4 separate regions of the Homo sapiens genome follow, and all the other regions are linked to region 1. Evidence: fine-mapped expression QTL. A gene starts in region 1. Each other region holds a variant in brackets. All regions are shown on one strand. Distances are between the middles of the regions. Region 1 holds the start of LAMTOR1 (late endosomal/lysosomal adaptor, MAPK and MTOR activator 1). Region 2 holds the start of FOLR3 (folate receptor gamma). Region 3 overlaps FOLR1-AS1 (FOLR1 antisense RNA 1). Region 4 overlaps RNF121 (ring finger protein 121).

What was found.
Region 2: its variant is fine-mapped to the expression of LAMTOR1 in whole blood (INTERVAL, PIP above 0.99).
Region 3: its variant is fine-mapped to the expression of LAMTOR1 in whole blood (TOPMed, PIP above 0.99).
Region 4: its variant is fine-mapped to the expression of LAMTOR1 in whole blood (TOPMed, PIP 0.93).

Annotation. Positions count from the first base shown.
Region 1 is chr11:72,099,229-72,107,324 of GRCh38, reverse strand. It overlaps LAMTOR1 (late endosomal/lysosomal adaptor, MAPK and MTOR activator 1), which reads left to right and starts at 4,028. Exons shown (of 5, transcript NM_017907.3): 1 at 4,028-4,142; 2 at 8,069-8,096. The coding sequence starts at 4,101. LRTOMT (leucine rich transmembrane and O-methyltransferase domain containing) reads right to left here. Exons shown (of 9, transcript NM_001145310.4): 6 at 2,313-2,361; 7 at 1,115-1,269. It overlaps TOMT (transmembrane O-methyltransferase), which reads right to left and starts at 1,401. Exons shown (of 3, transcript NM_001393500.2): 1 at 1,115-1,401. The coding sequence starts at 1,373. It also overlaps the pseudogene LOC124902837 and a transcript of ANAPC15 not described here. RefSeq lists enhancers at 2,942-3,462, 4,243-4,322 and a silencer at 3,873-4,142.
Region 2 is chr11:72,128,696-72,136,800 of GRCh38, reverse strand. FOLR3 (folate receptor gamma) reads right to left here and starts at 1,076. Exons shown (of 5, transcript NM_000804.4): 1 at 1,033-1,076; 2 at 681-854. The coding sequence starts at 848. It also overlaps the pseudogene RPEP6. The variant G/AG (reference allele first, on the strand shown) is at 3,237.
Region 3 is chr11:72,162,231-72,170,335 of GRCh38, reverse strand. It overlaps FOLR1-AS1 (FOLR1 antisense RNA 1), which reads left to right. Exons shown (of 3, transcript NR_199595.1): 3 at 6,957-7,014. Among named protein-coding and RNA genes, the nearest start is that of FOLR1, 26 kb to the left of the region's middle. RefSeq lists an enhancer at 4,801-5,610. The variant G/T (reference allele first, on the strand shown) is at 3,577.
Region 4 is chr11:71,961,472-71,969,576 of GRCh38, reverse strand. All of the region lies in intron 3 of RNF121 (ring finger protein 121), which reads right to left. Among named protein-coding and RNA genes, the nearest start is that of IL18BP, 33 kb to the left of the region's middle. RefSeq lists an enhancer at 6,722-6,841. The variant T/C (reference allele first, on the strand shown) is at 4,057.

The DNA.
Region 1 (8,096 bases):
TGCTCATCAAATGTATTTCTGATCTTGGAATTGGATGAACTTTTATTTATTTATTTTTGAGACCAAGTCTTGCTGTGTTGCCCAGGCTGGAGTGCAGTAGCATGATCACGGCTCACTGCAGCCTTGACCACCCAGGCTCAGGCAATCCTCCCACCTCAGCATTTCCAGTAGCTGGAACCACAGTTACTCACCACCACACCCGGCTAATTTTTAAATTTTTTGTAGAAACGGGGGTCTTGCTTTGTTACCCAGGCTAGTCTCGAACTCCTGGGCTCAAGTGATCCTCCTGCTTTGGCCTCCCAAAGTGCTGGGATTACAGGCATGAGCCACCATGCCCAGCCAGTGAATTTCTTTTCTTTTCTTTTTCTTTTTTTTTTTTTTTTTGAGACAGGTTCTTGCTCTGTCACCCATGCTGGAGTGCAGTGGCACAATCACAGCTCACTGCAGCCTCAGCCTCCTGGGCTCAAGCAATCCTCCCACCTCAGCCTCCCAAGTAGCTGGGACCACAGGCATGTGCCACCATGCCTGGGTAATTTTTGTATTTTTTGTAGAGATGGGTTTTTGCCATGTTGCCCAAGCCGGTCTCAAACTCCTGAGCTCAAGCAATCTGCCCACCTCGGCCTCTCAAAGTGCTGGGATTACAGGCACCAGCCACCACACAGCCGAATTTCTTAAATAAGACCCTAAAAGCACTTATGCTGGGATTGAGATAAATCCAGGCAGACAGCTACCCTAAATGGTATGTGGAAGCCTCCATGGTGGAGAGGAAAGATGTGGAGACAGATAATTACAAAGCTATGGGTTATCTGCTGAGATGGTTATTCCACTGTGTATTATGGTTCCTTTGAGGCCAGCATTTGTGGCTCATTCATCTCTGTGGCCTCTACCCCTCTCCCTGGCACCTAGCACATTCCTAATACAAAAGAGGTGGCAATAAATGTTTGCTGAATAAATGACTTAGTCCAAGCTCCTCATTTCCAGATGAGAAAAAAAAGAGGCCCTAAAAGAGGATCAAGAACCTGCCCAATTCATCCAGTTAAGCAGCAACAGATCCCAAATATTCCTTCACTGTCTTGGGGGTACTTCTTGGAGCAGAAGGCTAGGGAACACTGACCTTTGACAGGCCCCATGTGGCTCAAGTACTCGCAGCGGCTGCTCCAGTGGTCCAGGGTGGTGAGGATGTGACCAGGGTCACCGGGCAGGGCATGGGTGAGCACGTAGCTGAAGGCCCGCTCCTCGATCCGCAGCCCTGACAGGCAGTCTCGGAGGCTTCGCAGCAAGACCGTGCGCACCAGCAATCGGAAGTAGTGCCGGTACCGCACCAGCAATGTTACCACCAGTGGCAGGAAGGCCAATGCAATGGCAGGGGACATGGTCCCTACCTGGGCCCTGGGGTGGAGGGAGGTAGGGAGGGAATCCCATACCCACAATTTGCCTATTTGTGTAGCTTTTGCCAGTAGCAATTATTATCCTTATATTTCACAAACCACGGCTCAGAAAGGCTAAGTCTTTTGTCCAGAGTCACAGAGCAGAACTGGGATTTGAATCCAGGTTAGTGTGATTCCAAGCCTGTGTACTTTCAAGGACTCTATACTGTCTACTTTCAGCACCCAGCCCCAAACCACCTCTTCCCGGTCCCAACCCCTGGTCCCATCTTCACATTGTTCCCCTGACTTGTTTCTCTTTATCCTTGAAGTCACCCCTTCTTCAGGACCCCTTTCACTAATTCACCTCTGGGATATCTTCCCCCACCCCTACCCTCTGCCTGCCTGGTCTCCTCTGACCACTGCTGTGTAGCAAAAGAGCATAGATTTGCAGTCAAAAACACCTTCACTATCACTGTGCCCTGCCTCAGTAAAATGCAATCAAAATACCCCATAGGGTGTTAGAGTGAGATGTCCTCTTTCCCACCCCAGGACTCTCCCTCTGCCTGCTCTTCCCTGAGGATGGGAGGAGTCTTTGATTCTTTAATAATTCTCCAGCCCCATCTCCTCTCCGCTGTATTCCCCTCTTCTCCTGTGCTGTCTCAGAATTCCCTTCACAAATGTGTACATACACATAACACACAGCACACATTTTCCCTCTACTCAGCTCTTCTCTCCAGGGACCTATGGGGAATGGGCCTCTCCTCCCATGTCCTGGACCATTCTCCTCCTCATCCAGATCTGACCTCCTTGCCGGCCTTCTTGCAAGGCCCCTGGTGATGGCGGGGAGTAAAAATGAAAGAGTGTATGGATGGGTGTGAATAGGTGAGTGATGCGGTGGGCTTGAACTGGTGAGCTTGGGAACCCACAATCCAGGGCCCTGCTTACCTGGGCTGGAGGACCAGAGCACAGGACAGGTCGGGGAGTCCAGGGCCTGCTGCGGGGGATAACCCTGAGGTAGGAGGCTGGAATGGCTTTCAATTATTCATGCTGAGGCTGCTGCTGTCACCTGAGACCTGCAGTTCAAGTTACCAGCCCCAGGGACGAGCTTGAGCTGCCTCCTACCCTTCAGGAACCTCAAAAGATTTACAGAACCTCAGGGTCTTGATTTGAGGGGTTATAAGAGGTATGAGATCTGGTGACTTCTCCAATACTTTGGATCAGAAGATGGGGCATGGGGTGAGCCAAGGTGATGGGGTGACTGTAACATGCTCATTGATATGCAAGTTTTCTGTAAGCAAGGCCATGCCTTGGGCTACAGGGAAGAGTCAGAACCTGTCACTGTGCTCCAGGAACTCCCAAGTTTGGTAGGTGAGACTGACCCAGGAACAGAGAATACAATATAGTGTGATCACTATTGGATGTTCCATGACTACAGGGACTTTGGCTGTTTTGTGAACTGCTGCATATCCAGATATAACAATGTGTGGCACATAGTAGACGCTCAGCAAATATTTGTTGATTCAATAAATGCATGAATTAACACTGGATGAGGATTAAGCATAGGGAGCTGGGCATGTCCAGAGAATGGAGTCAGAGAAGGTAATCAGGAGGACATTGTACTGAGTCTCGAAGACAGTAAAGACAGTAGGCAGACCAGGCTGCATGTACAAAGTCCAGTAGATCAATCAGGAAACTACATTATTTCTCTATGTCCAGTGAAACACATTGCTGACCCCTCCACCCCTCACCCCAGAACATGCAGTGGGAGAGGTGTCAGGCTCTTGTTATGTCAGACGGGTAATGTGCCAAAACAAGATTTGAGGGTGGCACATTTGATACATGCTGGTGAACACCCAATCACACGCTCATGAACAACAAATGGATCACTATACAATCTTGGACGGACTTGGACCTGTGTTCAGGGCCCAAGGGAAGACATGGAGCGGGGGTTAGGAAAAGAGAACTGATGGTCAGCTTTGTGCGTTCGATTACAATGGGTGCTGTTAAAAAAGGCAGAATTAAAGATAAAAGCCTGAAAGCAGAGAGGTCAGTGAGGTGGCTTCTATCTCCTCTACCAGGATTTATCTCCGCTGCGCGTCAGCATGTGAAGGTAGTATAAGGTCCCTTCTTCCTGTAAGTCGCAGATCCCCAGCCCAGGTGGAGAATACACCCTCTGTGTATTCACCCCCAGCCCAGCTGGGCGATACACCCTCTGTGTTCCCCGACTAGGTACTGGTCATCTGGATCATCTGTGTGTGTGCACCCAGACCGTACGATCTGGAGCATCAGGCCTGGATCCCAGTCGCCCCTCGCATGGCATTTAGAAGAGTATATCACAAGGGCATACGAGGGCATTTGGTACGAGTTCGCTCAATGGCCCAGAAAAGTGGCCTAGTGGCCACGAGAACGCATAACACAATTCACGATGGCCACTACTGCCAGTTTAGAGACTGGAAAGATGAAGTCATGTGATCCGCCCCGCCCTTTCCCCGCATCACGTGCTTGCGTGTACGGTTACGCCTTCCCATTGGTTGACAACGATCACGCGCTAGCGGGCGGGACCGGAAGCCGGGGTATTGACTGAGGCGGCCAAGCGGCTCCGGGACAGGGGGTACGGGGGGTGGGGGCGGGTGGTTGCCTGCGGGAGGCCGCCGCGGGTCATGTGACCGGAAGGGCTCCTCACGGACGCCGTCCCTCCTCGGCGCGGCCTGAGCGCCCGGCCCGACCCCGGCCATGGGGTGCTGCTACAGCAGCGAGAACGAGGACTCGGACCAGGTGCGGCCGCGGCAGGCGGGGCTCGGGAATGAGGGCTAAGACACTGGGGCATGGGGCCCAGAAAGAAACCTGCGGAGGACGGGCAGCCGGACTGCAGGGCTCACTGAATACGGAGGCCTGGAGGGGACAGATTACAGAGGAGACGCCAAGCCGGGCTCCTACCCCTGTTAAAGCCCCAGATTTCTACACAGTCCCCGCCTCGGGGTGTGCAGGCAGCCGCCTGTCCGGCTCGCTCCCACCACTTCCGTTTGCTCCTACCTTCAAAACTTTTCAGATTCAAGGATCCTCAGTCTAGGTCCCCGGGAAACACTCCCTTCCCCAGCTTCCTGTGTCTTCTGTGTATTAGTGGGCTTTGCGAATCCATTTTAGGGGTGGGTAAGCTGAGGCCCTGAGTTAGTCTGTCCTGAGATGAATCAGGAATTCGTGTATCGTCTTAGTCCCTGGGGTTGCAGAAGGAAGGTCGCTGCTAGTCTAGGGCCAGGGGACGACTCTGGAAGTTGGTGGCCTTTGAATTGGCCAATGAAGGATTTAATCGATACAGTGAGGACATCGGGACATGTGGGAAATTGTCTGGGAAGCAACAAAGAGGATTTAGCTTTGGCTAGATTGTGGGAAAAGAGAAATGGAGCGGGAAGTTCATTTGGTTCTGAGTTTGGCTTGCCTCAGTGCAGTCTGCCTGGGGCCTGAGGGTTCCTTTAGCTGGAGACATGCCTATTCTGAGAATTTGGCTGTAGATCTGATACCTTTGGAGAAAGGGTTAGGCTGGGGAGACCTGTACAGTTTTAAATTCTCCCTCTTCCTCTTAGTGCATTCTCACTTCTCCCCACACTCTAATCCCTGCCCTGCCTGGCCTGACATTCAAGGATGAAGTCTCAAGTTGCTGTCTACTCTCCTTTTTTGATCGTCTCTAAGCCCGGATTCTACATTTGAACATATAGTAGACCTGAGAGAGTAGAAAGGTTTCAGGTAGCTCACGGTCTAATGGGGAAGATGGTCACAAAAATAGATTATATCACTGGTACTTGGGAAGTAGTTCGTTCTTCAGTGAACGTATTTTGGATTAAGGGCTTAAGCCTAGGAAAATGTCGTTTGTATGGGAAGCAAGGGTGGCTTCTGGTTCTCAATTCTCCATACACCCAATGAACACATATTTCCTTTGCCCTGTGTTAGGCATGTGTTGTGCCTAATACCTCTCACTTCACTTCCACCTTTTTGAGAAAGAGACAACAATAACCCTGCCTACTGGGAGAGCTGTAGCCTAGTGGGAAATTGTCCCTTAAAGCATAATATGGACTCTTGCAGGGAATGAGTCAAGAAGGATTAATGCCGTATGAGAAAGGATACAAGCTTCTACTTGGAAGGGAGAGCTGGGCCTGCTGCTCTCCTGAATCTCTACCTTCTCCTTGGGGGGCTCTCATTTCTGTTCCTAACACCCAGAGAAGGTGCTTAATCACTGCTGGGTGATTTGAGGCCTCATGTAGCAAGGGCCATAACCATCCACCATCCCACAGTCCCTCTTTGAGTTCTTGGGCAGGCCCCTCTCCGACTCTCATCTCTGTCTCTTTATCATAATAAAAAATATACAACACGTTACAGTTTACAAAGGGCCTTCACAGTTATCTAATTTGACTCTTGCCAGACATCCGTCATATTAGTGTGGGTTATGTCTATTGAAAGGTGAGGAAGAAGTTCAGAGAAGCTAAGTGATTTGGCCAAGCTGAGAAGTGCTAGTGCCCAGGTGTTCTGACGCTAGGCCATGTACTTTATCCATGGGGCCAAGCTGTCTCAGCCATGCCCCTAGACCAGGTGGCCAGTCACGGGCAGGCTGCTATGTCTGTGCTAAGGTAGACAGTGAAACCCTGCCTCTTGGGTTACACTAATGCAGAGACAAACCTTGATGTGACAAACCTAACCCATGCTCCACTCGCACTTTGGGAGTGGGGTGATGTTTGTCTGCTCTGAAGTAGGTAGCATGGCCTCTTCTTTAAGTCTGGGTTTCAAGAAAATAACCTTGTTGTTCACTTGATCTTAGCTGAAGGCTGAGAAGTGATCAGCCAACCTTCTTCTTGAAGAACCCCTGATAGGGAAGAGACTACCCTGTCCTGCAGGAAGATCTGTCTGAAGTGGAGCTGGGAGGACAGACACATAGGAAGCTAACTTGGGCCTCATTATGGAGCCAGCTTTCCTTAGAAATACATAGTTTTATCTTTGGCAAACATTTTGTCTTTTTAGCTCTTTAATACTGAGCCTATGTATTTAGGGAGGAAGGGTGTCTGGGAGTTTATAGAGGTGATGGGGCAAAGCCCACAGCTTCTGTCTCTTGCTGTTGGGAACTGGATCAAATTGCCTGAGGACACTTGGGCAACCTAGCCTTGAGAAAGAAGAGTAAGGTGAAAAGGCTGGGCCTCCCTAAGCAGGGCAGGAGGAAGTAGCCCTCTACAAGGAGAGTTGTGGAGTTGTGGGCAGGGGAGCTGCGGCCTGCAGCAGGAAAGACTGAGGAACTGAGATAGGCCTGGAGGGGAGCATTGAGGAGTCTGGCACTGAAGGTTGGTGAGTCAGCATTAGCCAGGATGTCCCCCTGGGCCCATCCTTGGCTTTGTTCAGGGCACTCTTGCTCTTTATGGGTTGGATAGATACCCAGCAGGTCTGTTTTTCTCATTTACTGCTGATACAGCAAGCAAGGATTTGCAGCTGATGGTCTCAAGGCAGGGTCAAATCCAGAAATATTACAGTAGATAGAACAGGGGACTGAAAGAGGACAAGGAGGAAGACCAAACCAATGAGGAAGCTTGGTTTGGTCTTACATTAGTTCAGGGGTTGTGATTATCAGCACAGGCCAGCAGGAACAGGGCTGCTGAAAATTTACATGGGCTACTCAGGTGGTTTAGCAAGGGAGGGAACAGCGCCATTGTTGTTTGTTTTGAGATGGGGTCTTGCTCTCTTGCCCAGACTGGAGTACAGTGGCACAGTCCTAGCTCACTGCAGCCTCAAACCCTGGGTTCATACAGTCGTTGCACTTCAGCCTCCCAAGTAGGTGGGACTGCAGGGCTCACACTACCAAGTCCAGCTAATTTTTTTTTTTTGCAAAGACGAGGTCTTGCTTTGTTGCCCAGGCTGGTCTCAAACTCCTGGACTCAAGCAATCCTTCTGCCTTGGGCTCCCAAAGTGTTGGGATTACTGGTGTGAATCACCATACATGGCTACAGCTGTACTGCTCAGATCAGGATACACCATGTACACTCAGTTTGGTTCTGGGAGTCACGTACAAAAAGAGCACCAGAGCACAGGAGGGTGAACACCTTCGAAGGGACCTGCCTTCAAGAAGGGAACACACTTGTACTGTGTGACCCAGAGCTGGGCTGGGATTCCTGCCCTGACATAATTTGAGAAATGGCCATGGAGAGGTTGGGCTTGCTTTCTCTTGGGGCCTAGGGCTTTGTCTGGACTCGCCAGGGCTTCCATCTTGGAAGCGAACAGCTTTGCTGGGGAAGGCCTGGTCCTAGGGGATGAGGAAGGCTGTTCTTGGGCTCTTGACTTGCACTGATTTCCCCTTTAGATCCCAGTGCTTGCTATGTCTCAGCTCCACTGTCTTCCAGCCTCTAGTATCCTTTCTTTGCCAGGTCCTAGAATGTTTTTCAAGCTCCAGGGCTGTTGCTGACTACCTGCTTTGTGCCTCTGTCCATTTTTTCAGGGCCTCTAGGACTGCCTGGTTCCACTCTCATTTATCCTAGAACACCAACTCAGTTGAGCTCCCAAGGATAGGCAGGAACTGAGTCTTATCTGGCATTCCATAAAGCTGGGCACTTTAGATATTCCTTATAGAAACATTTTTGGTGTTTAAGGTCAGAGCTGGGCTAAGGGTAGCACCCGTGAAAGGCAGGATCTACGGGTCCTGGGGCTGACTTCTCTCCCATGACCACTTCTAGGACCGAGAGGAGCGGAAGCTGCTGCTGG
Region 2 (8,105 bases), 29 kb before region 1:
TCATATAGCTCATGGCCCTGAGAATGATAGTCATCTGTCTCTCTCAAAGGTCTACATCCACACCATTTCCTGGCAAGGAGGATGTGCTCTAGAAGGTTCTGAAAAGCAAATGAAGTGGTGGGCACAGAGTTTCCATTTCAGTTTTGGAGAATGAAAGAGGTCAGGAGATGGATGGTGGTGATGGTTGCACAACCACATGAGCATACCTAATGCCACTGAACCGTACAGTTAAAAATGGCTAAAGTGGAAAATGTATGTTATGTATTTGTTTTTTTTTTTTAACCCCGATTTAAAAATAAGCAAATGGAATGTTGGGAGTGACTCAGATGTCATGGGGCTTCCAGGCTGTCCTGTCTTCGCTTTAACCCACAGATTGTGTCCACGCCACAGTCTCTCCCTAGGCACATCCCCAGCCCTCTGGGAATGTGAAACCTTGTAGGGAGCAGGCCAGGAGACCAGAGGAATGAAATACAAGCACACTCCTGAGCCTGGAGTTCAAATTGGAGCTCATATTCCCCAAGCTGCCTCAGTGGCCTTACCTGTGGCATGGTGGCCCTGGCCGCCCCTCCCCTTCCTTGTCAGCAGCGGCACCCTTGGTTCTGACCACACTGGACCTGCCATTGCTCGTGCCATCACCCTCTGACCTGTGTGCATGCTGTCCTACACCAGGCTGCCCTCACCTGGCCATACAGCTCGTCCTCGGGGCTGGGCTGTGTCTTGTGGTGCTTGGCGTTCATGCAGACATTGAGCAGGTCCGTCCTGGCCCGCGCACTCCTGGGCTGGGCACTCCCCGCAGCAGTCACCAAAGCCAGAAGCAGCAGCTGCATCATCTGCCAGGCCATGTCCATCTATTCCTGCCAGAGAGCCACAGTCAGAGGTAGACAAGGCCTGAGACAGGGGCAACAGCCATGTGATTGTGTACTCTCTCCCTCCCAGGCCCAGATCTCTGCTGTCCCCACCCTGCATCCCCTACAGGGCAGCTGAGCCAAGAAATGCGCTGCGTGTAGAGGTGAGAGGGAGCCCTTCCCCTACCTGGAGGCAGGACCTCCACCAACAGCGCTGTAGGTCCAGGCTCTGACACCAGCTTGCTCTGTGACCTTGTAGGGAGCCACCGCCCTTGTGGACTTCCCCTCTTGGATTTCTCCAGTGTTTTATGCAATTCTTTTCAAATTTGCACAAGGAGGAACCACAGGTGGTGGCCTGCTGATGCAGGAGTGAGACTCTAGACAGCCTCAGGCTTCTGCTTCCTCAGCCTGTCCTCCTACCCCATGGCAGCTGAGGTTTAGATGCCCAGGGAAGCTGAGATGGGGACAGCAAGGGCCATGGAGCTGTCAGCTATTGTTCATGGTCCCGGAGCAGATGCTGCGGGAGGCAAGGAGGTGGGGGCAATCACACCTCACCCTTCACCCCTTCTGGGTCTTGGGAAATTACCTAGGCAGAGGCAGGCTCAGAGGTTGGGGGAGGCCAACAGGTCAGCGGCAAACGGAGGAGGGGGCTGAGCGAGAACAGTGGGCGCTATCTCGCCTCCCACCTCTCATCCCCACTTTTCCCTCTGTCCTGTTGCAGGGCCTTACCTCCATTCTCAGCCCACCTGGGAAGGTGGAGTCTCTCCCACCTCCCCACCTACTTTATAACCCCATCCTGCCTGCTTGGTTAGACCCTCTGTTCGGGAAGGTGCACAAGGCTTTGTCTAGGAGACAGCTCAATTGTCTTTCAATAAGGACCCAGTTAAATTATGGTACATCTACCCAGTGGAATTTAATGTGGTAACAAAGAAAGAGAAAGCTCCTGATGTACAAATATGGAAAAATCTTCAAGTGCATTGTTAAGTGGAAAAAGAAAGGTGCAGAAAAATGCTATGTAAAAAATAATAATAATAAATTCTCTGTAAAAAAGGAGTAAGAATGTCTGTGTTGACTGGGCGTGGTGGCTCACGCCTGTAATCCCAGCACTGTGGGAGGCCGAGGCAGGCGGATCACTTGAGGTCAGGAGTTCGACATCAGCCTGGTCAATATGATAAAACCCCATCTGTACTAAAAATACAAAAATTAGCTGGGTGTGGTGGCACATGCCTGTAATCCCAGCTACTCAGGAGGCTGAGACAGGAGAATCACTTGAACCCGGGAGGAGTTTGCAGTGAGCCAAGATCACGCCACTGCACTCCAGCCTGGATAACAGAACGTGACTCTGTCATTAAAAAAGAAAAGAATATCTGTGTTTGCAGGTGAAAATTCTGTGGCAAGGTATGAAAAGAAATTAATAACATGGTCACCTGGCAGTAGAGAACAGGATTAGGCTTGAGACTTTTCTCTGTAAACCTTTCCACATTGTTTTGATTTTTGGACCATGTGACTATAAATCTTATTTAAATACATATAGGTATGTGTGTATACATACATAAATATACCAAATATGAAGTGAAAATACTAAGACACAGAATGACCTCTCTGACTTGATAATATGTATGTAAATTTTGATAACACTAGAATGTATACAACAGTACCTTTAAGTTAAGGATACTACACATGTGCTTGCAAAAGTATGAACATGAAGCCACCAAGAGTTCTGGTCCCTGGACATACATCCAGTAAATTCGATGCAGTTACACCATATATATCCCATTTCTGTGCACAAATGGTAGCATACTGTTCTGTACTTTGCTTTTTTGGGTAGTTTCACTATAAATTTATTCTTTTGACAAAAAAACAAAAACCTCATGAACTCAAGTTATCCACAGTTGCACACTTGAGTATTACTGTACATCTGATAACATAACTAAAATTATTTCTTTATGCCTCGTAGGGTCTAAACTTAAAACTATTTCATTAGCCGATATAAAAAAGTTAGTGGGCTGGGTGTGGTGGCTTACACCTGTAATCCCAGCGTTTTGGGAGGTTGAGGTGGATGGATCACTTGATCCCAGGAGTTTGAGACCACTTGGGCAACATAGGAAAACTTCATCTGCACACAAAAATAGAAAAATTAGCCACGTATGGTGGTGCGAGCTTGTAGTTTCAGCCATTTGGGAGGGTGAGCTGGGAGGATTGCTTGAGCCCTGGAGGTCGAGGCTGCAGTGAGCTGTGATGGCACCACTGTACTGTCAGAGTGAGACCCTGTCTCAGCAAAAAAAGAAGAAGGAAAAGGAGAAGGAGAAGAAGAAGAAAGAAGAAGAAGAAGAAGAAGAGGAAGAAGAAGAAGAAGAAGAAGAAGAAGAAGAAGAAGAAGAAGAAGAAGGA[G/AG]AAGAAGAAGAAGAAGAAATAAGGAAACAAAGAAAGTTAGGAAAGAGAACTTCATGTTTTCAAGTTAAAAGTGCCTAATGCTTGGTTTGTATTTCTCCAACACTCTTGGAGGCAGTAGAACTGCTACTAACCTGGGAAGACGACCGGCACTGCCCCTGTGTATTGCTTATGTAGTGTGAAGTGATGTTTTCCCATTATGATGTTGGGAACATTTCCAATACTGTCATCATTTACTCAGCTAGTAGAGAGCCTCTCCTGAGGCAGAGCCTGTGTTTTCAGTCTGACCTCAGTATCTGGTCCTGCTACAGGTGAGTCTGAGGTGACAAGACCAGTGTCTAGTTATGAAGCCCTTGCCTCCCCAGGGCTCCATTATGGATGAGTCCTGCACCATAGTCAGCAGCCCTCTGCCCTCCCTCCATTGCACCCACCTATGACTCTTCTCTTCTTTTCAATGCCCTCCCCCAACAACCTCTGCCTGTGACTTTGAATGTGTTGTGGGGGTCTTTGCAGAAGAATCGCCCACCTGAGTTTTGGCCAAATTCCTGACTCACAACATCTTGGAATATAATAAAATAGTTACTATTTCAAGCAACTATGTGTATTTGATTTTTAAACTTTTTGTTTTGAAATAATTTTAGATTTGCAGAAAAACTGCAAAACATCGTCAAAAGATTTCCCGTATGTTTTTATGCAACTTCCCCAAATATTGGCATCTTATGTAACCAAAGCCCAGTTCTTAAAAAAATCAGGAAATTAATATTGAGGCAATACTGTTAACTAATCTACAAGCTTTATGCCCTTTACACCAGTTTCCCCCCCAATGTCCTTTCTCTGGCCCAGGATTCAGTCCATGATTCCAGGTTGCATGTAGTTGTCATGTCCCCTTAGTCTCCCTCCAATCTGTGACAGTTCCTCAATGTCTTTGTCTTTTATGACCTTGACACTTTTGGAGAATTACTGTTCAGTTATTTTGCAGAATGTCCCTCAATTTGGGTTTGTCTATATTTTCCTGTAATTAGCTTGAGCTTATGCATTTTGGCAAGAAAATTAGAGAAGAGAGGTGCTTTTGTCAGTGCATCATATCAAGAGGTACATGATGAGGGTTGCTGCATCTTATTGCTGGTGATTATTGGGTTAAGGAGATTTCCTTACTATATAATTATTAGTTTCCCTTTGTTAGTAATCCTACCTTGTAGGGAGACACTCTGAGACTATGTGAATATCCTTTTCATCCACTTAGTTTAACATTGTCTGCAGCAATACACCACAAAATTATGGAATGATTTGTTATGCAGCAACAGACAACTAGTAAACCCATGAGAGTTAGTATTGTGTTTCTTAAACTCTGAGGAAACAATTTGGCTTATAACCTTAGTTTAGCCACACAGCAGTTACTCTTTCTACAACAAAATTCCCAGGAAAAACAGAGTACTTATCATATTAATCTTTAAATTAAATCACTTATAAAAGTGAGTAGTTATAATAGTCAAACTTACTTTACCCTCTGTGAACATTCTGCATGATGGATTTGAGACAGTGGACTGAATAATTGCTCAGGAAATCAGCACTACCTCAGTTACTTTCTGATGGGTCCTCATAGTACAATAAACAGGAGATTTCATAGACAGAAATACGGGCTCTTCAAGGCTTCTTCAATCATGAGAATGTTTCTGAGAAGCTTCTGAGCAAATACTTCTATGGAAGCTGATCACAGATCTGAGGTCTTTGCACTTCATAATTATTCTGTCAATCACAGTCATATTAATTCCTCCTCTGCACATGTATCAATAGCATTACGCCCACAGGGTCCAAAAAGAAAGAGGTATGTCCTCAACCAACGAATTTCTGATATTACAGGCTTCATAAAATTCATGCCCTCCAATCCCAGGCTCCACTATCGTGGCCAAGGCCAGGTCTGGCTGAGTTGCCAATGGTGCTAAAGACTCTACTAAAGATTCAGGTGAATGCCAAGGCCAGCCTTCATCCAAGTGACCAGAATATCTTTAATGAATGTCTGGTTTTCAGTAGCCTCTAGATAAAAGGCACACTGATTTGCTACACCTACAACTATAGCCGTTGCCTTTTTGCTCGTTGTTTTGACCTGAAACTTAATCATGGGCGTGGCCTCTCTTTAAGGCTTTCTATCTCAGGTACCAAAGATGATGGCAAGAACAAAGTGTCTGTCCACTACATCAAAGATCAGATGGTTATCCGAGTCCAGCATCTAGGTGCACTGAGCCCCAGGGAGTCCAGGCAACTGTTGAGGGTAGATGGGCCAATCTTTATTTTACCTTATTTTTTATTTTTAGGAGACAGGGTCTCACTCTGTCACCCCAGCTGGAGTGCAGTGGCACCATCATGGCTCACTGCAGCCTCAACCTCCCTGAGTATCTGGGACTACAGGCACGCACCACCACGCCCAGCTAATTTTTGTATTTTTGTAGAGAGGAGGTTTCGCCATGTTGCCCAGGCTGGTCTTCAACTCTTGGGCTCAAACAATCCTCCAACCTAGGCCTCCCAAAATACTGGGACTACAGGGGTGAGCCACCACGCCCGGCCAAGATGGGCCAATCATGAGTCTTGCCCAAATTCTTGGGCAAAATCTCACAAAATCTTGAAGTATAATTAAACTCACAAAATCTTGAAGTATAAGTAAATAAGTATTGTGTTTTTGTTTTGTTTTGTTTTGAGACAGAGTCTTGCTCTGTCCCCCAGGCTGGAGTGCAGTGGTGTGATCTCAGCTCACTGCAGCCTCTGCCTTCCGGTTCCAGTGATTCTCCTGCCTCATCCTCCCAGGTAGCTGGGATTATAGGCACATGCCACTATGCCAGGCTAATTTCTGTAGTTTCAGTAGAGGTGGGGATTCACCATGTTGGCCAGGCTGGTCTCGAACTCCCGACCTCAGGTTATCGGCCCACTTCAGCCTCCCAAATTGCTAGGATTACAGGCATGAGCCACTGCGCCCAGCCTAATTGGTATTGTTTTAAGACATCAAGTTTATTTGATTTTCTTAACTTAGTGTTTTGAGATAATTTTAGACTTAACAGAAAAATTGCAAAAGTAGTAAAGAGGTTTCCCATATGCTTTCATCCAGTTTCCCCAAATGTTGGCATCTGACAAAACCAAAGCCCAATTACTTAAAAAATCAGGAAATTAACATTAAGGGAATACTTTTAACTAATCTACAAACTTTATTCTTTTTCATCAGTATCCCCACCAATGTTCTTTCTCTGGATGCCATGGCACCAGTCCTCAGGAAGAAGAATAACCCCTAATTCCCTTGCATTTTGATTTCTTTTCTTTTTTCTTTTTCTTTTTGACAGGGTCTCTCTCTGTCACCCAGGCTGGAGTGCAGTGGCATAATCATAGGTCATAGCAGCCTTGACGTCTTGGGCTCAAGTGATCCTCCCACCTCAGCCTCCCAAAGTGCTAGAATTACAGGCATGAGCCACTGTGCCCAGCTCACTTTGCTTGCTTTACTTAACAGAATGTACTATAGATGGTCCCTTATCTGTGTACATAGATCTATATGATTCTATTTCATTATTCTATTGAATTTAAGTGGCTTCTCATATTTCACTGTTATAGTCAATGCTGTAGGGAATGTCCTTGTATAGCCGTCCACCTTTGTATATAATAACATATCTAGTGGAGGGGGAATGTAAAATGGTCCAGATGCTGTGAAAAAAAATTAAACATAGAATTACCATATGATCCAGCAATTCCTCTTGTGCGCACACACCCAAAAGAATTGAAAGCAGGGATGCAAACAGCTATCTGTGCAGTCATATTCACAGCAGCATTAATTCACGATAGCTAAAAGTTGAAAGCAACCCAAGTGTCCACGGATGGATAAATGGATAAACAAAATGTTGTTTCTACAACTGGTCACAGTGAAAGAGTTTTAAGCAGGGGAATGTCACAGTTCAATTGGCAGTCTTGGTGTGTTCAGATGGGATTACGTGTAGGCTGGAATTGGGCAAGGTAGACCAGTTAGAAAGCTGTTTCACAAGTCCAGGCCTGGGATGATGGTGCCTTGACCAGGAGGGTAGAAGTGGGGATTCATTCAAAAACTAAGCTCAGAATTAGTTATTGGGCATCTACCATGTGCTAGGCTGTTCTGGGTTCTAGAGCTACAGAAGTGACCAAGAAAAAGTCCCTACTGTCATAGAGCTGACATTCTAGTTTGGGGGTGGGAGGTTGTTAGAGAGAGACGACAGAAAACAAATAAAGATGATGATTGTGCTCTGAAGAAAACTGAAGCAGGCTAAGGGGACAGAGAGTGATGAAGCAGGGGCTACTATCTTCTACAGGAAAGATCTAGGAGGTGATGCTTGGGCTGATACCATAATGAGGTAAGAAGGGAGTCATGTGAACATGGAGGAAGGAGTGCTCCAGACAGAGGGACCCGTAGGTCCAAAGGCCCTGAAGCAAAAATGTACTCAGTGCATTTCAGGAACAAACAGCGAGGAGGAGGCCAGTGTGGCCAGCAGTGAGCTGGGAGCGGCAGGTGTGGGGTCCAGGCCAGATCTTCAGGGCCCCGTGGTTCAGACTCAGCAAAGATGGGGGATTTTACTCTGAATGAAATGGAAACTTTATTTGCTTTTTCCAGTTCAGCATCTGATCTGACTCTAGGGACAAGGGAAAGCAAACAATTGACACAGATGTCTATGTGAATGGCCCAGCCTTAAGGCAACCATGACTTGAACCAGGGCTATGTGGTGGCAGTGGACGTGGTGAAAAGGGAGGAGTAATGTCATGTCTTTTGAAGGATGTTTTGATAGGATTTGCTGAGATGGAGGACATGAGAGAAAGGGAGGAATTAGGATGACTCCAGAGTGTGTTGGTCTGAGCAATTAGAGAGGAGTG
Region 3 (8,105 bases), 63 kb before region 1:
AAGCAAGACACTTCTGCCTATCAGCCTGTAAAATCAAAAGCAAGTTAGTTACTTCCTGGATACAATGGGAGTACAGGTATTGGGTAAATACAGCCACTCCAAAATGGGAGAAATTAGCCAAAACAGAGGGGCTACAGGCCCCTGCAAGTCCAAAATCCAGCAGGGCAGTCAAATCTTAAAGCTCCAAAATGATCTCCTTTGACTCCATCTCTCATATCAGGTCACACTAATGTAAGAGGTGGGTTCCCATGGTCTCTGGCAGCTCCGCCCCTGTGGCTTTTCAGTGTACAGCCTCCCTCCCGGCTGCTTTCACAGGCTGGCATTGAGTGTCTGCAGCTTTTCCAGGCAAACAGTGCAAGCTGTCAGTGGATCTACCATTCTTGGGGCTAGAGGACAATGGCCCTCTTCTCACAGCTGCCCTAGGCAGTGCCCCAGTAAGGACTCTGTGTGGGAGCTCCAACCCCACATTTCCCTTCCGCCCTGCCCTAGCAGAGGTTCTCCATGAGCACCCCACCCCTGCAGCAAACTTCTGCCTGGGCATCCAGGCATTTCCATACATCTTCTGAAATCTAGGTGGAGGTTCCCAAACCCCAATTCTTGACTTCTGTGCACTTGCAAGCTCAATACCACGTGGAAGCTGCCAAGGACTGGGGCTTTCACCCTCTGCAGCCATGGCCTAAGCTCTATGTTGGCCCCTTTCAGCCATGGCTGGAGCAGCTGGGACACAAGGCACCAAGTCCCTAGGCTACATACAGCACGGGGACCCTGGACCTGGCCCACGGAACCATTTCTCCTAGGCCTCTGGGCCTGTGATGGGAGGGGCTGCCAAGAAGACCTCTGACATGCCCTGGAGACATTTTCCCCATTGTATTGGGGGTTAATGTTCCTCTTGTTACTTATGCACATTTCTGCAGCTGGCTTGAATTTCTCCTCAGAAAATTGGCTTTTCTTTTCTATCGCATTGTCAGGCTGCAAATTTTCTGAACCTTTATTCTCTGCTTCCCTTATAAAACTGAATTCCTTTAACCACACCCAAGTCACCTCTTGAATGCTTTGCAGCTTAGAAATTTCTTCCGCAGCCAGGTGTGGTGGCTCATGCCTGTAATTCCAACACTTCAGGAGGCTGAGTTGGATCATTTGAGGTCAGGAGTTTGAGACCAGCCTGGCCAATGTGGTGAATCCCTGTCTCTTCTAAAATACAAAAATTAGCCAGGCATGGAGGCACATGCCTGTTATCTCAGCTGCTTGGGAGGCCGAGACATGAGAAACGCTTGAACTCAGGAGGCGAAGGTTGCAGTGAGCCAAGGTCACGCTACTGTCCTCTGGCCTGGGTGACAGAGTGAGACTCTATCTCAAAATAATAATAATAATAATAATAATAATAATAATAATAAACAAATTTCTTCCACCAGATAGCCTAAACCATCTCTCTCGAGTTCAAAGTTCTGCAAATCTCTAGGGCAGGGACAAAATGCTGCCAGTCTCTTTGCTAAAACATACAAGAGTTACCTTTGCTCCAGTTCCCAACAAGTTCCTCATCTTCATCTGAGACCACCTCAGCCTGGACCTTATTGTCCATATCACTATCAGGCTTTTGGTCAAGGCCCTTCAACAAGTCTCTAGGAAGCTCCAGACTTTCCCACATTTTCCTGTCTTCATCTGAGCGCTCCAAACTGTTCCAACCTCTGCCTGTTCCCCAGTTCCAAAGTCGCTTCCACATTTTTGGGTATCTTTTCAGCAATGCCCCACTCCCAGTACAAATTTACTGTATTCATCTGTTTTCACGCTGCTGATAAAGACATATGCAAGACTGGGCAATTTACGAAAGAGGTTTATTGGATTTACAGTTCCACATGGCTGGGGAGACCTTACAATCATGGTGGAAGGCAAGGAGAAGCAAGTCACATCTTATGTGGATGGCACCAGGCAAAGAGAGAGCTTGTGCAGAGAAACTCCCGTTTTTAAAACCATCAGATCTTGTGAGACCCATTCATTATCATGAGAACAGCACGGGAAAGACCCACCTCCACGATTCAATCATCTCCCACCAGGTCCCTTTCACAACACATGGGAGTTATGGGAGCTACAAGATGAGACTTGGGTGGGGACACAGAGCTAAATCATATCACTGTACATCTAATAACATAACTTTAAAGTTATTTCTTTATGCCTTGTATGTATAAACTTAAAGCTCATTAGCCAATATAAAAAACATTAGGGGGCCGTCCTTGGTGGCTCATGCCTATAATCCCAGTGCTTTGGGAGGCCAAGGCTGATGGATTGCTTGAGCCCAGGAGATCAAGACCAGCCTGGGAAACATAGGGAGACCTCATCTTCACACAAAAATACAAAAATTAGTTGGGTATGGTGGTCTAAGCCTATAGTCCCAGCCATTTGGGAGGATGAGCTGGGAGGATTGCTTGAGCCCAGGAGGTCAGGGCTGCAGTGAGCTGTGATGGCATCCCTGCACTCCAGCCTGGGTGACAGAGTGAGATCCTGTCTCGGAAAAAAAAAAAAAAAAGAAAGAAAGAAAAAAGTTAGGAAAGAGAACTTCATGTTTTCAAGTTAAAAGTGCCTGATCCGGCTGGGTGCAGTGGCTCACACCTTTAATCCCAGCACTTTGGAAGGCCAAGTCAGGGGTATCACCTGAGGTCAGGAGTTCAAAACCAACCTGGTCAACATGGTAAAACCCCATCTCTACTAAAAAAAAAAAAATACAAAAATTAGCCGGGCATGGTGGCACATACCTGTAATCCCAGCTACTCAGGATGTTGGGGCAGGAGAATCGCTTGAATCCAGGAGGTGGAGGTTGCAGTGAGCCAAGATCTCACCACTGCATTCCAGCTTGGGCAACAGAGCAAGATCCTGTCTCAAAAAAAAATAAAGTTGGTTTGTAATAAGCTATAGGACTCTGACAGGTGCTCTCAAATACAGGTTTCTGATAACTTTGGAGACTGTGATATTGGAATAAAGGAAAATGTACAGGACTCATGAAGAGCTAAAATGTTCACGAATATCAAGCATAACAAGAACTGAATGGACTGAACTCAGAAAGCTGAAGCAACCTTTTTGACTTTTGCTTGGAATATTGCTGATCCTTGTTTTGTTTCTCAGAGTCAAGGAAAATTATTTTGAACTCTTTAAGGCCTTTAATACTAGAGTAAGCTACACTCCTGTGAACAAAATTTGAAGCATATTTTTCTCTCTCTCTGCCTGGCTTCTCCAGAATTTGGAAATTATCCGTGAGTATTCTTTTTTTTTTTTTTTTGAGGCAGACTCTTGCTCTGTCGCCAAGCTGGAGTGCAGTGGCATGATCTCGGCTCACTGCAACCTCCGCCTCCCAGGTTCAAGTGATTCTCCTGCCTCAGTTTCCCAAATAGCTGGGACTACAGGCACTTGCCACCACACCCAGCTAATTTTTTGTATTTTAAGTAGAGACAGGGTTTCACCATGTTGGCCAGGCTGGTCTCGAACTCCTGACCTCCGGTGATCCGCCCACCTCGGCCTCCCAAGGTGCTAGGATTACAGGTGTGAGCCACCACGCCTGGCCAAGAATGTCACTTTCTAACAGGTCTA[G/T]GAGCTCCAAATTTGTCATGGGACCTTAACACGAGAAGATCATCCAACTTACAGGTATTTGAGGATACAAATCCATGGCTGGGCTCAGTTTTAAAACGTTTTGTCTGAAATTCCTTGAAGAACAGAGTTCCATCAAAGCCAATCTAAAAGACTTATGTAGAAATAGTTATTCTTGCTGCACTTTATGCAAATAATCAGGCCAAGTATATGACTAAAGTCTATTTTGCAAACAACTCAATCCTACCATAATTTGCTTTTTTAACAAAAATGAGGACTGGAGAGAGAGAAATTATGTTTCAAAACACCATACATTTGTCAATAAATTCTAAAGTCATTAGTGTTTAAGTTTTTGCCTACATTTTTAGGCTAACACTCCTTGTTCCTGTGAACCAACCAGCAATCTCCAGCTGCAGCTCAGAAAGAAGGAGAGGATGGGTAATGTAAAAATCTGGATCAATATTTTAGTTCTGAGCAATTATCCTGCAAATCCTGCCAGGTGATGGGAATAAATAGGATGCCCATTAATCGGAGGTTTCCTTTTTTGGAAAGTAAGAGCTAACCAAAGCCAAGCACCATGCACCCAAATCCTAGCTTACATAACTATAGCCACCAATTATCTGGGCATGTCACAAGACATCTTTTTCTCTCCCTTGTTGGAGGAGGACTCAATTCTGCAGCTTCACCTTCCTTAGCATTTGGCTTATGATAAGGAGTCCATGCAGCCCTTCCTAGACACATATTTTTGTTTCAAATTCTATTCCAAGCTTTGAGTCAAAGCCCCAGGAAAGAAAACTGGATCTAAGGGATTCAGAGGCAGATGATAACAGGGGTTAAAAGGCACAGTGCAAGGCCGGGCACAGTGGCTCACACCTGTAATCCCAGCACTTTGGGAGGCCAAGGCGGGCAGATCATGAGGTCAGGAGATCGGGACCATCCTGGCAAACACGGTGAAACCCCGTCTCTACTAAATATACAAAAATTAGCCAGGCATGGTGGCATGCACCTGTAATCCTAGCTACTTGGGAGGTAGAGGCAGGAGAATCGCTTGAACTGGGAGGTGGAGGTTGCAGTGAGCTGAGATCATGCCACTGCACTCCAGACTGGGCGACAGAGCAAGACTCCATCTCGAAAAAAAAAATACAAAAATTAGCTGGGCATGGTGGTGCGTGCCTGTAATCCCAGCTACTCAGGAGGCTGAGGCAGGAGAATCACTTGAACCAGGGAGTCGGAGGTTGCAGTGAGCCGAGTTCACTCCACTGCACTTCAGCCTGGCAACAGAGCGAGACTCTGTCTCAAAAAAAAAAAAAAAAAAAAAAAAAAAAAAGGCACAGTGCGTGCAAGTGAGCATGGCTAATTCCTGCCAATCAAGCCAAGCCTCCCATTTCATGGATAAAGGTCATGCTAGTATCCATGGCATATGTAGGGGTGGGTTGCCCCTACACACCTGTGGGTGTTTCTCGTAAGGTGGGACGAGAGATTTGGAAAAGAAAAAGACACAGAGACAAAGTATAGAGAAAGAAATAAGGGGACCCTGGGAACCAGCGTTCAGCATATGGAGGATCCCGCCAGCCTCTGAGTTCCCTTAGTATTTATTGATCATCTGTGGGTGTTTCTCAAAGAGGGGGATGTGTCAGGGTCACAAGACAATTGTGGGGAGAGGGTCAGCAGACAAACACGTGAACAAAGGTCTTTGCATCATAGACAATGTAAAGGATTAAGTGCTGTGCTTTTAGATATGCATACACATAAACATCTCAATGCTTTACAAAGCAGTATTGCTGCCCGCAGGTCCCACCTCCAGCCCTAAGGCGGTTTTTCCCTATCTCAGTAGATGGAGCATACAATCGGGTTTTATACCGAGACATTCCATTGCCCAGGGACAGGCAGGAGACAGATGCCTTCCTCTTGTCTCAACTGCAAGAGGCATTCCTTCCTCTTTTACTAATCCTCCTCAGCACAGACCCTTTACGGGTGTCGGGCTGGGGGACGGTCAGGTCTTTCCCTTCCCACGAGGCCATATTTCAGACTATCACATGGGGAGAAACCTTGGACAATATCTGGTTTTCCTAGGCAGAGGTCCCTGCGGCCTTCCGCAGTTTTTGTGTCCCTGGGTACTTGAGATTAGGGAGTGGTGATGACTCTTAAGGAGCATGCTGCCCTCAAGCATCTGTTTAACAAAGCACATCTTGCACCGCCCTTAATCCATTCAACTCTGAGTTGACACAGCACATGTTTCAGAGAGCACAGGGTTGGGGGTAAGGTTATAGATTAACAGAATCTCAAGGCAGAAGAATTTTTCTTAGTACATAACAAAATGGAGTCTCCTATGTCTACTTCTTTCTACACAGACAGAGTAACAATCTGATCTCTCTTGCTTTTCCCCACAGCATAAATGAGGTCTAGGAAACTCCAAGACTACTGACTGTAGGGGGTATAGAAACATAGGTAAGAGCGGATAATTCCTATTCTCTCTTTTTTTTTCCCCGAGATGGAGTCTTACTCTGTTGCCCAGGCTGGAGTGCAGTGGTGTGATCTTGGCTCACTGCAACCTTTGCCTCCTGGGACCAAGTGATTCTCCTGCCTCAGCCTCCCGAGTAGCTGGGACTACAGGCATGCACCACCACACCCAGCTAAGTTTTGTATTTTTAGTAGAGACGGGGTTTCACCATGTTGGCCAGGCTGGTCTCAAACTCCTGAAATCATGATCTGCCCACCTCGGCCTCCCAAGGTGCTGGGTTGTACAGGCGTGAGCCACTGAGTCTGGCTGATAATTCCTATTCTCTAGGTACTCCCTGCTTCATGGGTGCAAGCTGCTGTGGCACCCATGGCAGCACCTGCCAAGGTCACCAGGACTTGGGTATGCAAGGACAGAAGAGGGAAAGAGGACGCTCTTCCTTCTCTCCCTCATGTACCCCTGGTATCTGCTAGAAAGAGATAGGAGACAGGGATGCCTGCTCCCCTCTTTCTAGATGGGTAGCCATTCATCTTCACTCTGTACCCCTTTTGAATGCATGCTGAACCCCTGGGACTCCTTTAAAAAGCACCTTTTTTTCCTTTCTTCTCCACTGTCTTCTCTTCACTAATAGGTAATTGTGTCTTTGTACTATAGGACACTCCCCTCAGATGCATCCTCCAAACTGGAAAGAGTTAATTTCCCAAACCTTCAGCTGGTTGGCTTAGGATTGGGCTCAGAGGAAGGGAACCCACAAGCATGACATGCTGGCAAAAGGGTAAAGTTTTTTTTACCAGTCGGGCTTTTGGTTTCCCTCTCCCTGTGCAAACTGGTAAAAGGCCTAGGGATTTTAAGCTGTCCTTACCCTCCCTTGTTTCGTTTTAACACATGTTTTCTAATAACCTGGTTTTTCTCCTCTTGCCTTCAGGCCATCAAACTCCAAATGGTCGTGCAACCGGAGCCTCGGAAGATGGCGCCTTCTGCCGGGAACCCTTAGATAGGCTTCTGAGGGAGCTCTGACTGCCGTTTCCCAAAACACCGCTCCCTGTTAGCAGGAAGCAGTTTAGATCGGTCTTCGTCCTCACCCCTATCCTTGTTCTAACAGTAGTTTGATGTACTTCTTGAGAGGGGGGAATGAGACAGCCAAGTGTAAAGGGGTCCCCAGAGAACCTCTGACAAACCCGCACACTGGGAGGAATGTGCACTGGGGTGGAGCCTCTGGAAGTTCGTGCTGAGGAGCCTGGCCCCTCCTCTTCCAGGGTGGAACCTGGGATTCAACCTGAGAGGTGGGAAGCGTGTACTAGCAGGACTCTCACTCTGCCGAGGGTCCCCGTTTCCCCGCTTTTTTTTTTTGCCCAATAAATTCCATTTTTCTCACCCTTCAAAGTGTCTGCAAGCCTAATATTTCATGGCCAGGTGACAAGGACCCTGTCTTTGGCTGAACTGAGGAGAAACTCCTACAACATTACCATCCAGCAATTCCTATTTTTTTTTTTTTTTTTTTTTGAGACAGGGTCTCACTCTATCAACCCAGGCTGGACTGCAGTGGCACAGTCATAGCCCACTGCAGCCTCTACCTCCTGAGCTAAAGAGATCCTCCCATCTCAGCTTCCTGCATAGCTAGGACTACAGGCGTGGACCACCACACTGGGCTAAATTTTTTGTATTTTTATGTAGAGACGGGGTTTCACCATGTTGCCCAAGCTGTTCTAGAATCCCTGGCTCAAGTGATCTACCTGCCTTGGCCTCCCAAAGTGCTGGAATTACAGGTATGAGCCACCATGCTTGGCTTCCAACCAATATTTTAAAGTTCATGATGGGAATGGAGTTTGTCTCAGATGATAGATTTTTATGGAGCCACATGCCAATTTCCTTAGAATACTTTCCCTCATGGATACACCCCACAGAAACTCAGAATCATCCCCTCAATTCTTATCCCCCCTCATGCCCATTTACAATTAATCCCTGTTGTCACTTCCAGCCCCAGGCAACTACTAATCTACTTTCTGCCTCTATAAATTTGCCTTCCCTGCACATTTCATGTAAGTGAAATCATGCCACATGAAGCCTCTTAGGT
Region 4 (8,105 bases), 140 kb after region 1:
TAAAGTAAAATATGGTTTTATCACACATATACGTAATTTTAAAACATACCGTTTATGCCTAACACAAACTTAGCCAAAAAAAAGAAAACATACCACTTAAGTTTCCATTATTTTTACCTTTCTATAAAAAGTGTCAACTTATAAGTGGTCTTCTAGGACTCTTCTTTTGCACTCAATATTATACTGCTAAGCTTCATCCTTACCATTATTTGTAGCTATAGTTATTTTATATTTTGTCTTTTTATAAGTATGTCATATGCATTATTTTATATGTTATATTCCATTATGTGAATATATCACAACTAACTCACCCATTCACCTTTACGTGAGTATTGTCATTTCCAAGTTTTTGCTACTACAAATAGTGTTGCTATGAAAAATCCTAAGAGGGGCCAGGCACGGTGGCTCACGTCTGTAATCCCAGCACTTTGGGAGGCCGAGGCAGGTGGATCACCTGAGGTCAGGAGTTCGAGACCAGCCTGACCAACATGGTGAAACTCTGTCTCTACTAAAAAATACAAAAATTAGCCGGGCATGGTGGCAGACACCCATAATCCCAGCTACTTGGGAGGCTGAGGCAGGAGAATCACTTGAACCCAAGAGGCGGAGGTTGCAGTGAGCCGAGATCGCGCCACTGCATTCCAGCCTGGGCAACACAGCAAGAGCCTGACTCAAAAAAAAAAAAAAAGAAAGAAAGAAAAAAGAAAAATCCTAGGAGGATGTACCAAAATCTTCTCTTGGCATATATCTAGGAATTAAACTCCCAGATCATAGGGAGTTTAATTTAAAAACAGTTTGAAACTGTTTTTCAAAGTTGTTTCTCCACAAAGGAAACAATATAACTGAGCACAGCCCCAGCGTGGGACTAGAAAGGATCAACGAATATCTACTGACTGAACAAATAAATAGACAGTACTCAATAAATGCTAGCTAGTGTTATTAATTATGTCTACGTAATTACATAGGTGGTAATGTCCCAACTATATTTATGCTCTGCTTCTCCTCTCTAGAACTGACCTTTAACCTACAGCAGATTTGAGAATGAGAGGTCCACAAGAATTGTAAAATTGGTAGCTATGGCTATTACCTAAAATATGCCTAGGCAGGCAGAAGAACTTTATAAGAACCAGGATAGAAAATCAGGAACAGCAAGATGGGCCATCCAAACAGAATAGCAAACAATAGAGTACTTAGCCAACAAGATCGTTCATAAATTGGGCTGGGGGCAGTGGCTCACACCTGTCATCCCAGCACTTTGCGAGGCCGAGGCAGTTTGATCACTTGAAGTCCAGAGTTCGAGATCAGCCTGGCCAACATGGTGAAACCCCTTCTCTACTAAAATACAAAGAGTTAGCTAGGCATGGTGGCAGGAGCCTGTAATCCCAGCTACTTGGGAGGCTGAGGCAGGAGAATCGCTTGAACCGGGGGCAGAGGTTGCAGTGAGCCGAGAGCATGCCACTGCACTCCAAACTGGGCGACAGAGCAGGACTTCATCTTAAAAAAAAAAAGATCGTTCATAAATCTAATCTATAAAAATTTTTCTACCAATTCTACAAATAAAATCAAATGACAAACTGGGGAAAGATATCCGTAGCAAATTATGTCAGAAGGCTTATTCCTGACCTACAAAGAGCTCTTACAAATCAGTAAGAAACATTCCAAAAGAAACCTGAGCAAAGGAAAGAAAATGTACCAAATATATCATATGGCTCAAGCTGTGAATAATACATCTTGTGAATAATACTTACATATAATACTTAATAATGTAAACAATGAATATTTATTTAAAAATTGGGAGGAGGAAATGTTTGTAGTATGTAACGGGTATAGGTATAGCAGTAAAAGATAATTATTACCGCCAGGCACAGTGGCTCATGTCTGTAATCCCAACACTTTGGGAGGCCAAGGTGGGCAGATCACGAGGTCAGGAGATCGAGACTATCCTGGCCAACATGGTGAAACCACGTACTAAAAATACAAAAATACATTTGTACTAAATACAAAATACTAAATACTATTGTATTTTGTACTAAAATACATTTGTACTAAAAATACAAAAATTAGCTGGGTGTGGTGGCATGAACCTGTAGTCCCAGCTACTTGGGAGGCTGAGGCAGAAGAATCGCTTGAACCCAGAAGGCAGAGATTGCAGTGAGCCGAGACCATGCCATTGCACTCCAGCCTGGGTGACAGAGTGAGACTCCGTCTCAAAAAAAAAAAAAAAAAACAAAAAAAACCCACATAATTATTACCTTCCAAAGTAGGAAGTCAATATATAATATTTAAAAGTAGAAATTTATACATCAGTATAAACATGTTATTTAAAAAACATAAATATTATATTTAAATATAATAAAGTAGAAATTTATATCAGTATAAACATGTTATTTAAAAAACACAAATATTGGCCGGGCGCGGTGGCTCACGCCTGTAATCCCAGCACTTTGGGAGGCCGAGGCGGGTGGATCATGAGGTCAGGAGATCGAGACCATCCTGGCTAACAAGGTGAAACCCCGTCTCTACTAAAAATACAAAAAATTAGCCGGGCGCGGTGGCGGGTGCCTGTAGTCCCAGCTACTCGGGAGGCTGAGGCAGGAGAATGGCGTGAACCCGGGAAGCGGAGCTTGCAGTGAGCCGAGATTGCGCCTCTGCAGTCCGCAGTCCGGCCTGGGTGACAGAGTGAGATTCCGTCTCAAAAAAAAAAAACAAAAAACCCACAAATATTATATTTAAATATAATAAAGTAGAAATTTATACATCAGTATAAACATGTTATTTAAAAAACGCAAGGCCAATTGTGGTGGCTCATGCTATAATCCCAACACTTTGGGAAGCTAAGGCAAGAGGATCACTTAAGGCCAGGAATTCAAGACCAGCCTGGGCAATATAGTGAGAGCCAACTCTACAAAAAATTAAAATATATATATATTAGCCAAGCGTGGTGGTGTGTACCTGTAGTCCTAGCTACTTGGGAGGCTGAGGCAGGAGGATTGCCTGGGCCCAGGTGTTTGAGGCTGCAGTGAGCTATGATGGAGCTGCTGCCCTCCAGCCTGGGTGACAGACTGAGATCCTGTATCTTAAAAAAAAAAAGTATCAGAAATGAACTAAAAAAGTTATTAATAAAAGTAGTTGCCACAGAAGAATCAGCGACTGACAGAGTTGGGCAGGGGACCAATGTGTTTTGCTTCTGAAGTCTTGTAGAACTATCTGACTTTTAAAACTATGGTATGTATTACTTCGATAAAAATGGAAATATCAGGCCAGGCACGGCGGCTCACACTTGTAATCCCAGCATTTTGGGAGGCCAAGGTGAGCGGATCACCTGAGGTCAGGCATTCGAGACCAGCCTGACCAACGTGGAGAAACCCTGTCTCTACTAAAAATACAAAATTAGCTGGGCATGGTGGCGCACGCCTGTAATCCCAGCTACTCGGGATGCTGAGGCAGGAGAATCACTTGAACCTGGGAGGCAGAGGTTGTGGTGAGCTGAGATTGTGCCATTGCACTCCAGCCTGGGCAACAAGAGGGAAACTCTGTCTCAAAAAAAATGTATCAAATATAAATCTAGTCAATGATATGAACAAATAATTGAAAGAAGCCAAATGACCACTAAGCATGAAAACATGCTCAACTTCACTAATAATCAGAGAAATACTTAATAAAATCAGGTATTTTCACCTTATCACACTGACAAAGATTAAAAATACTGACTATACCCTACACCTTCTTTAACACTGGGTAACAGCTCTGTTAAATCTGTGTTGATGGATTGTAAACTATAATAGCTATAACTTTCTTGGAGGGCAATTTGGCAAGTTCCACTAATAATTAAAACACATATATTTTTTGACCAGGCAATTTCATTTCTAGGAGTGCATTCTATAAAACTGCTTGCACAGGTATGCAGGTAATTTATGTATGAGAAGCTTACTAAATTGTTGCTTGCAACTGTGATAAACTGTTAATTAACAAGTCAATCGATAAAGGTAAATTAAATTTTATTTGAGATCTATTTTCCAAAATACTATGCAGGCCAGGCGTGGTGGCTCACTCCTA[T/C]AATCCCAGCACTTTGGGAGGCCGAGGTGGATGGATCACTTCAGCCCAGGAGTTCCTGACCAGCCTGGACAACATAAAACCATCTCTATAAAAAATACAAAAATGAGCTGGGCATGGTGGCTCACACCTGTAGTTCCAACTACTCAAAAGGCTGAAGTGGGAGGATCCCTTGAGCCCAGGAGGCAGAGGTTGCAGTGAGCCAAGATCACACCACTGCACTCCAACCTGGGCAACAGAGACCCTGTCTTAAAAAAAAAAAAAAAAAATTACTATGCAGTCATTAGTTTAAGAGGATGATATACCCACCAATATGGATAGATATTTGAGAGATAGTATTAGGTGAAAAATGCCGCAGAACCTAATGGATGTCATAAACATCTAAAAATTTATAAACACACACTTGCAGATTTTTCCTATCTATAACAAATTGATTAACAGTGGTTCCCTCTGGGACACTTTTGATTTCTATGTCACATACTGTTACATTGTTCAAATTTTTTTATAACAAATAAACATAACTTTTGCAGAATGAAAACCTCATCCTGTCTCTAGGCAGGTCTGCTTCATCCTCTAAGAACAAGACAGGCCTTTACCTCTTGTGGGTAATTCAATTTGATACAGATTTCAGAGCTAACTGGGAGGACTTCAAGAAGTCCAGTCAACCATCCCATAAAAAATCACAAACATCCCCTCCACAACATTCCTGACAGGTTGCTAACTTGTACTAAAACACAGCTTATAATACCAGGCACGGTGGCTCACGCCTGTAATCCCAACACTTTGGGAGGCTGAGGCAGGCGGATTGCTTGAGTTCAGGAGGGCGAGACCAGCCTAGGCAACCTGGCAAAACCCTCTCTCCACCAAAAATACAAAAAATTAGCCTGGTGCTGTGGTGTGCGCGTGTAGTCCCAGCTACTTGGAAGTCTGAGGTGGGAGGATCACCTGAGCCTGCAGAAGTAGAGGCTGCAGTGAGCCGAAATCGCCATACTGCACCACTGCATTCCAGTATGGGCAATCAGAATAAGACCTTGTCTCAGGAAAAAAAAAGGTATCCAATTGGAAAAGAAGAAGTGAAACTCTACTCTCAGATGACCAATCTTATATATAAAAAATCCTAAAAAAAACTTTAAAAACTATTAGAGCTAATAAATTCAGCAAAGTTGGAAGACTAACACAAAACGATCAGTTGAAATTCTATATATTAGCAATGAATAATTCAAAAAGGAAATTTTTAAAAATTCCATTAACAATGGCATCAAAAAGAATAACATACTTAGGAATAAGTTTAACAAAGGAGGTGCAAGACTTGTACATTGAAAACTACAAAACATTGATGAAAGAGATTAAAGACCCAAATAAATGAAAAGATATCCTGTGTTCAGGTACTGGAAGATTAATATTGTTAAGATGGAAACATTTCCCCAAACAATCTAGAGAATCAAACCAATCTTTATCAAAATTCCAACTGATTTTGTTTGTAAAATGGAAACGTTGATATTAAAATTAATAAGGAATTGCAAAGGACTCAGAATAGCTGAAACAATCTTGAAAAATAATAACAAAGTTGAGGAACATACTTTCCAATTTCAGAACTTACTACAGTGCTACAGTAATCATAACAATGTGGTACCTGCAAAAGAACAGACATATAGATCAACGGAATAAAACTGAGAGTACAAAAATAAGCCAACATATCTTTGATCAATTGATTTCTGACAAGGTCGTGACATGCCACGACCATCCAATGGAGAAAGAAGTCTCTTCAATAAATGATGCTGGGACAACTGGCTATCCACATGCAAAAGAATGAACTTAGATTCTTATCTCACACCATTTACAAAAACTCAAAATGGACCAAAACTCCAAATGTAAGAGCTAAGACTATAAAACTCTTTTTTTTTTGGGAAGGAGTCTTGCTCTGTTATCAGGCTGGGGTGCAGTGGTGCGATCTTGGCTCATTGCAACCTCCAACTCCCTGATTCAAGCGATTCTCCTGCCTCAGCCTTCCGAGTAGCTGGGATTACAGGCACGTGCCACCACGCCCAGCTATTTTTGTATTTTTATTAGAGACGGGGTTTCACCATGTTGGCCAGGCTGGTCTCAAACTCCTGACCTTGTGATCCGCCCACCTCAGCCTCCCAAAGTGCTGGAATTACAGGCTTGAGCCACCCCACCGGGCCAAGACTATGAAACTCTTCAAAGAAAACATAAGAGTAATCTCTATGACCTTGGACTTGGCAATGGATTCTTAGATATGACACTAAAAGCACAACCAATAAAATTAAAAAATAGATATACTGAACTTCATCAAAATTAAAAACTGTTTATGCATCAAAGGACACTATCAATAAAGTGTCAAGACAACCGATAAAATGTGAGGAAATATTTTAAAATCATATATCTGATAATGGTCTATTATCCAGATTATATAAAGTACTCTAACAACTCAACAAAAAGACAAAAAATTCAACCAAAAATTGGGCAAAGACTTAAACAAACATTTCTCTAAGGAAAATATACAAATGACCCATAAGCACAGGAAAAGATGCCCAACATCATTAGTCATTAGGGAAATACAAATCAACACCACAATGACATCTACATCCACTAAAGTAGCTATAATAAATAAAATTTAAAAAAAAACGGAGTGAAAGAAGTAAGAAGTCTTGATAAGAATGTGGAGGAATGAAAACCCAACCCACGTTAGGACAGAATGGAAAATTGTGCAGCTTCTGTGGAAAACAATTTCTCAGTTCCTCAAAACATTAAACACAGAGTTACCACATGACTCAGCAATTCCACTCCTAGGTAGATTTCTTTTCTTATTTTCTAAAGATATGAGTTTAAGTTTCTCAGTGTAAGATGTGCTATCATGTTAGCATATCCTCTCACCAATAAAATTCAGCATTATGTTTACAGGATGTGGTAGTAACAAGTAAACTGCACATTCCTAGTACAACTGGCCTCATTAAGTCACAGACACATCTCCTGTTAAGAATTAACTAATGAATAACACATCAGTGGTTTTCTAACAGTGCTATGATGAGTCCTAGAGATTTCAGAGGGGGAAGCAGAGGTGTTAGGGTTACCCAACCTTCATATCAAGCAGAGCAGCCTCTTAACTGTTTCCCAGATTGAGTTTTTCCTTAAGATAATGTTTAAAGAAAGGATTCCACACTTAAGGAAAAAGTTCTTATTGAAAATTACTGCAGTGCATATATGCATACTCACTTTCTTCAGAATAGGTTGTAAAAATCTGCCGGGCGCGGTGGCTCACGCCTGTAATCCCAGCACTTTGGGAGGCCGAGGCGGATCACAAGGTCAGGAGATCGAGACCATCCTGGCTAACACAGTGAAACCCCGTCTCTACTAAAAATACAAAAAAATTAGTCAGGCGTGATGGTGGGCACCTGTAGTCCCAGCTATGCGGGAAGCCGAGGCAGGAGAATGGCGTGAACCCGGGAGGCGGAGCTTGCAGTGAGCAGAGATTGCACCACTGCACTCCCGCCTGGGCGACACAGCGAGACTCTGTCTCAAAAAAAAAAAAAAAAAAATCTTTGCAGATTAGCCAAAATTATATAATTAAAAATATTTCTACATATAAGCACAGAAATGCCAAGGGGGCTTTCACTCATTTATGAGTTTACTGAATCCCCTGGCTCAAGCAATTCTCCCACCTCAGCCTCCTCAATAGGTGGGATTACAAGTGTGTGCCACCACTCCTGGCTTGTGTCTTTCCACCTAAAGTGAATTTACTATAGACAGCATATCGATAAATGAGGGGATTTTTAAAACCAATCTGCCAATTTCTGTCTTCTAATGGAAGAATTTAATCCATTTATATTTAAAGTGATTACTGGTAAGGAAGAATTAACTTCTGCCATTTTGCTATTTGTTTTCTGTGTGTCATTTTCCCCACCTAATTTCAACCATTACTGTTTTTTCTTTTTCTTTTTTTTGAGACAGAGTCTTGCTCTGTCTCCAGGCTGGAGTGCAATGGCACGATCACGACTCACTGCAGCCTTGACCTCCCAGGCTCAAGGAATCTT